2 linked regions of the Homo sapiens genome follow. The protein of the gene in region 1 purifies or fractionates together with the protein of each later gene. This does not show direct contact. Each region holds a gene or a part of one and is shown on either strand. Other genes may lie near its edges.

Region 1 (2,660 bases):
CAAGGTCGGTCGCCTGTCTTAGGCTAGACTCTGTCGATTGATCTGTAACTACCATTATCCACAGGCCATGACCCTTTTCCTCTTTTTTATTTTCTTTGTGTCCCCATCTAACTTCAGGGTTTCTGTATTCATTAAGTCACCTCTTTTTCTCTTTGGCATCTCCTACCCTATTTTGTTTTCAGTTCCTACTCCCATCTTGCTCATCACTCCAGGCGCTTCCTTATCCCTCTCTGACCACACCGAGTGTCCATCCCACTGCTAGGAGTGTTATCACAGGTGGTTTCTAGGTGCCCTGGTGAGGGTTCCCAACTCAGACTCAAAATGCCAGAAGCTGTGTTCTGGCTCTGTTGCTCAGTTTGGAGTGCAGTGGCACCATCTTGACTCACTGCAGCCTCCAACTTCCAGGGCTCAAGCCACCCTCCACCTCAGTCTCTTGAGTAGCACGGGACTACAGGCTCGTGTCACCACATCCAGCTAGTTTTTGTATTTTTTGTAGAGACGGATTTTTGCCATATCGCTCAGGCTGGTCTTGAACTCCTGAGCTTAAGCAATTCGCCCATCTTGGCCTCCCAAAATGCAGGGATTATGGGGGTGAGCTACTGCGCCCTGCCTCTAGGGTTCTTTTTGAGTCAGTTTTCTGTGAGTCTGTGATCGCAGCCCTTGTCTGCTGACACTTCTCTCCCCTGACTCCTGCAGGTGTGTGGGCTGTGAGGTCGTGCTGTCAGGCATTGAGGAGCAGGTGAGCCGTGCCAACCAACACAAGGAGCAGCAGCTGGGCCTGAAGCAGCAGATTGAGAGTGAGGTGAGCAGTCAGGGGAGCAGGCAGACCCAAACTCCTCCAGCCTGGGCGACTTGTCCTTTGCAGAGAGAATTTGGACAGTGGCTGTAGCAGACAACCAGATGAGCAGGGGCTGGAAGGTTCTGGAACCTTCCTTGCTATCCCCATTCCTTTCATCCTGGTAGGTTGCCAACCTTAAAAAAACCATTAAAGTTACGACGGCAGCAGCAGCCGCAGCCACATCTCAGGACCCTGAGCAACACCTGACTGAGCTGAGGGAACCAGCTCCTGGCACCAACCAGCGCCAGCCCAGCAAGAAAGCCTCAAAGGGCAAGGGGTGAGCCAGGGTAGCAGGAACTGCTCACTTGCAGGGTGCCCTGCTTTTACCCCAGGGACCTCACTGTCCTCATTTCCTTCAGTTATTTGCATGGGAGTAGGGAGTGGGGGAGCCTCCAGGGGTTAGGGGATTCCCTGCATTCTCTCTCTCTCTCTCTTTCTCTCTCTTCTCCTTGCCAGGCTCCGAGGGAGCGCCAAGATTTGGTCCAAGTCGAATTGAAAGGACTGTCGTTTCCTCCCTGGGGATGTGGGGTCCCAGCTGCCTGCCTGCCTCTTAGGAGTCCTCAGAGAGCCTTCTGTGCCCCTGGCCAGCTGATAATCCTAGGTTCATGACCCTTCACCTCCCCTAACCCCAAACATAGATCACACCTTCTCTAGGGAGGAGGCAAATGTAGGTCATGTTTTTGTTGGTACTTTCTGTTTTTTGTGACTTCATGTGTTCCATTGCTCCCCGCTGCCATGCTCTCTCCCTTGTTTCCTTAAGAGCTCAGCATCTGTCCCTGTTCATTACATGTCATTGAGTAGGTGGGTAGCCCTGATGGGGGTCGCTCTGTCTGGAGCATAACCCACAGGCGTTTTTTCTGCCACCCCATCCCTGCATGCCTGATCCCCAGTTCCTATACCCTACCCCTGACCTATTGAGCAGCCTCTGAAGAGCCATAGGGCCCCCACCTTTACTCACACCCTGAGAATTCTGGGAGCCAGTCTGCCATGCCAGGAGTCACTGGACATGTTCATCCTAGAATCCTGTCACACTACAGTCATTTCTTTTCCTCTCTCTGGCCCTTGGGTCCTGGGAATGCTGCTGCTTCAACCCCAGAGCCTAAGAATGGCAGCCGTTTCTTAACATGTTGAGAGATGATTCTTTCTTGGCCCTGGCCATCTCGGGAAGCTTGATGGCAATCCTGGAAGGGTTTAATCTCCTTTTGTGAGTTTGGTGGGGAAGGGAAGGGTATATAGATTGTATTAAAAAAAAAAAGGTATATATGCATATATCTATATATAATATGACGCAGAAATAAATCTATGAGAAATCTATCTACAAACTACCCTGAACTGGGTATCTTCTGTGTTTGATATTTGTGGATGGGAAGAAGACTCATTCCCAATTCACTCAAGCACAGTGCTGGAAAATGAAGAGACCCAGATACTATTTGCTGAGTCCCTGGCTGAGGCCTAGATCCCAAGCTGTATGGCTTTGGACAGGTTGCTCAGCATCCATTCAGAAGTAATGGATATGGCTGGGTGCAGTGGCTCACGACCGTAATCCCAGCATGTTGGGAGGCCAGGGCGGGCGTATCACTTGAGGTCAGGAGTGTGAGACCAACCTGGCCAACATGGTGAAACCCATCTCTACTAAAAATGCAAAAAAATTAGCTGGGTGTGGTGGCTCATGCCCATAATCCCCTAAGGAGGCTGAGGCAGGAGAATCGCTCGAACCTGGAAGGTGGAGGTTGCAGTGAGCCGAGATCATGCACTCCAGCCTGAGTGACAGAGTGAGACTCCATCTCAAAAAAAAAAAAAAGGCCGGGCGCGGTGGCTCACG
Region 2 (3,500 bases), on another chromosome or scaffold:
AAGAAAAGAAAAAAGACTCAGGCCGGGTGCAGTGGCTCACGCCGGTAATCACAACAATTTGGGAGGCTGAGGCAGGCGGATGACCTGAGGTCAGGAATTCAAGACCAGCCTGGCCAACATGTTGAAACCCCATCTCTATTAAAAAATACAAAAACCAGCCAGGCATGGTGGTGGGCATCTGTAATCCCAGCTACTCAGGAGGCTGAGGCAGGAAGAACTGCTTGAATCTGGGAGGCAGAGGCTACAGTGAGCCAAGATCACACCACTGCACTCGAGCTTGGTCAACACAGTGAGACTCCGTTTCAAAAAAAAAAAAAAAAAGAAAGAAAGAAATAATCAGAAGAATTTATGTATTAAGATGTTCATTAGCCACATTAAAATAGCAAAAGAATGAGAAAACCCACATAGACAAGAGCACCATATGTGTTAGAGTATAGTACACTCATAAACTACAGCCATTGACAATCATTTTCAAAGAACCCTAAAGAATGAGGGAAAGGGTTCAAAATACAACATTAATGATATAAAAATAAAAAATGTAAGATATAAAATTAAAAATCTGACAATACCAAGTACTGGCAAGAAAGTAGAGAAATGTTGGATGTCTTTTGTAGTTAAAAAAGAAAAAACCGGCTGGGTGTGGTGGGAGACCAGGGCAGGTGGATCACGAGGTCAGGAGTTCAAGACCAGCCTGGCCAATATGGTGAAACCCTGTCTCTACTAAAAATACAAAAATTAGCTGGGCATGGTAGTGGGCGCCTGTAGTCCCAGTTACTCAGGAGGCTGAAGCAGGAGAATCGCTTGAACCCAGGAGGCGGAGGTTGCCATAAGCCGAGATTGCACCACTACTGCACTCCAGCCTGGGTGACAGAGCAAGACTCTGCCTCAAAAAAAAAAAAGAAAAAAAAAAGTAGAGAAATGAAAGCTCCTATATATTGCTGGTGGGGGATGACAATGGTATGAACATTTTTAGAAGCAATTTGGCAATATCCAATAAAGGTAAGAACACAGACACCCTACAAACCAGATGCTCTACATCATATCCTCAAGAGAGCCTCCAAAAGGAGGTTCATGATACCATTTATTTAATAGCCAAAAAAACCAAACAAAAACACTAAATTAGCCATCAATGGCAGAATAAACTGCAGTATAGAAATACAGCATTTTAAATAAATATCAACATATATAAATCTCAAGAATATAAGGGTAAAAAAAGCAAGCTGTGAAAGATGAACTTAGGAAAATATTTATAATTTAAAAACATGCAAAGCAGTATGACGTTATTATTTATGAACACACAGATATATATAGTATAAAAACATGAGTGGGGAGAATATGGTTCAAATTCAGAAGATGGGTGACTCTGGGGAGGCAGAAAAAGAACTGAGCCAAAAGCAAATACAACAACATGCCAATCCTGGTTAATGATGGAGCAGTTGTTAAACTATTCTCTGTGCCTTTCTATGTTTTGAAAATATTCATAAAAAAGATGAATTTGATTAAAAGTATAATATTAATTATGTGTATTTGCAAATATTACGTAGTGAATGCTAAGAGTAATTTTCTTTTCTCTTTAAAAGATTCTGCATATTCTAAAGCAGAAACATTTATTAATTTTATTTCTAAAAATAAATTTTTAAAATCAAGGACATATTTTTTCAATAATCCAAATACAGGCCGGACCGTGTTTCATGCCTATAATCCCAGCACATTGAGAGGCTGAGGCAGGCAGATCACTCAAGGCCAGGAGTTCGAGACCAGCCTGGCCAACATGGCAAAACCCCGTCTCTACTAAAAAATGCAAAAAGTAGCTGGGCTTGGTGGTGCGTGTCTGTAATCCCAGCTACTTCAGAGACTGAGGCACAAGAATCACTTGAACCTGGGAGGTGGAGGTTGGAGTGAGCCAAGATCCTGCCACTGCACTCCAGCCTGGGCAACAGAGCAAGACTCTGTCTCCAAAACCAACAAAAAAATAAATAAACACAGATGTACCAGTTTAAAAAATGTATTTATACCCTTTCTAGTTATCTTGTAAGCTGTCATCTTTTTTTTTTTTTTTTTTTTGGAGACAGAGTCTTGCTCTGTTGCCCCGGCTAAAGTGCAGTGGCACCATCTTGGCTCACTGCATTCTCTACCTCCTGGGCTCAAGCAATCCTCCCACCTCAGCGTCCCTAGTAGCTGGGACTACAGACATGCGGCAACACACCAGGCTAATTTTTTTTATTTTTGGTAGAGATGGGGTTTCACCATATTGCCCAGGCTGGTCTCGAACTCCTGATCTCAAGCAATCTGCCCGTCTCAGCCTCCCTAAGTGCTGGGATTACAGGTATGAACCACCACGCCTGGCCTATCATCACTTTTTAAACAATTCTCCAAATAAATATAATAACCTACTTTTCCAATATTCTAAAACAGCACTTCTCAAAGTATAGTCTGGAGACCTCTAGAAGTCTGAGACCCTTTCAGAAGGTCCTGTGAAGTCAAAGCTATTTTCGTAATAATAAGATGTCACTTTCCTTTTGCACTCTCATTCTCTCATTGCATAGTAAGAGAGTCTTCCAGAGATGATGTGATGTCACAAAAACTGAATACAGAAGCAGATATGAGATATTAGGCCAGACATTTTTTCAAACTTGCTAAAATTATCTGGTTTTATTTTGGAAATTTTTCATGAATAACGCAAACATGCAATGGGTTCACTTTTTTTTTTTTGAGATGAAGACTTGCTCTGTCGCCTAGGCTGGAGTACAGTGGCGTGATCTCAGCTCCCTGCAACCTCTGCCTCCTGGGTTCAATTGATTCTCCTGCCTCAGCCTCCCAGGTAGCTGGGACTACAGGTGCGTAACACCACCCCCGGCTAATTTTTCTATTTTTAGTAGAGATGGGGTTTCACCACATTGCCCAGGCTGGTCTCAAACTTCGGACCTCAAGTGATCTGCCCACCTCGTCCTTCCAAAGTGCTGAAATTACAAGCATGAGCCACTGTGCCTGGCCCACATTTTTAATGCATAAATATTTTTACATTTTCTGTTTTAATTTCTAATACTGATAGATATAACACAAAAACAAAAGCCTTTTAGAGTTCTCAGTAATTATTAATATGGTAAAGGTATCTTGAAACCAAAAAGTTTAATAACACCTGCTCCAAGAGTACCTTACAATATTTAAATGCTGGGATTTAACAAACTTACTATATTCCCCTAAATAAGCCCCTCTCTTATCTTTATGGCAGTGAGTGAATAGGAAAAGAAGGTCAAGCACTCTGTTTATAAACTTTTTTACTATCTTCTCTTAAGACCCCATCTTTTTCAAAACAGTTTTATTTCTTTTTATATCATCTTCAAATAGAACCTACCCAGTTTCCTGATTACATCAGCCACCCTTTTCTGGGCCTTGTCCTGCTCTGCCTTAAACTAATTTGTGAAAATCCTAACAGTATGTCGAATTCCAAGAGTAAAAGGACAATTTTATATGAACGTAATATAAACATTATATATGGT

Evidence for each region.
Region 2: the proteins of COPS7A (region 1) and DCAF1 purify together in Homo sapiens (affinity purification with mass spectrometry; 4 studies listed by BioGRID and IntAct, with this or other methods). This does not show direct contact.

The regions. Positions count from the first base shown.
Region 1 is NC_000012.12:6,729,706-6,732,365, forward strand, and holds the end of COPS7A (COP9 signalosome complex subunit 7a), read left to right. Parts: intron 1-696; coding exon 697-802; intron 803-963; coding exon 964-1,115; intron 1,116-1,294; coding exon 1,295-1,334; 3' UTR 1,335-2,160; downstream 2,161-2,660.
Region 2 is NC_000003.12:51,423,516-51,427,015, forward strand, and holds part of DCAF1 (DDB1- and CUL4-associated factor 1), read right to left. Parts: intron 2,494-3,500; exon of another isoform or gene 2,395-2,493; intron 1-2,394. UniProt on the Homo sapiens protein: Acts both as a substrate recognition component of E3 ubiquitin-protein ligase complexes and as an atypical serine/threonine-protein kinase, playing key roles in various processes such as cell cycle, telomerase regulation and histone modification.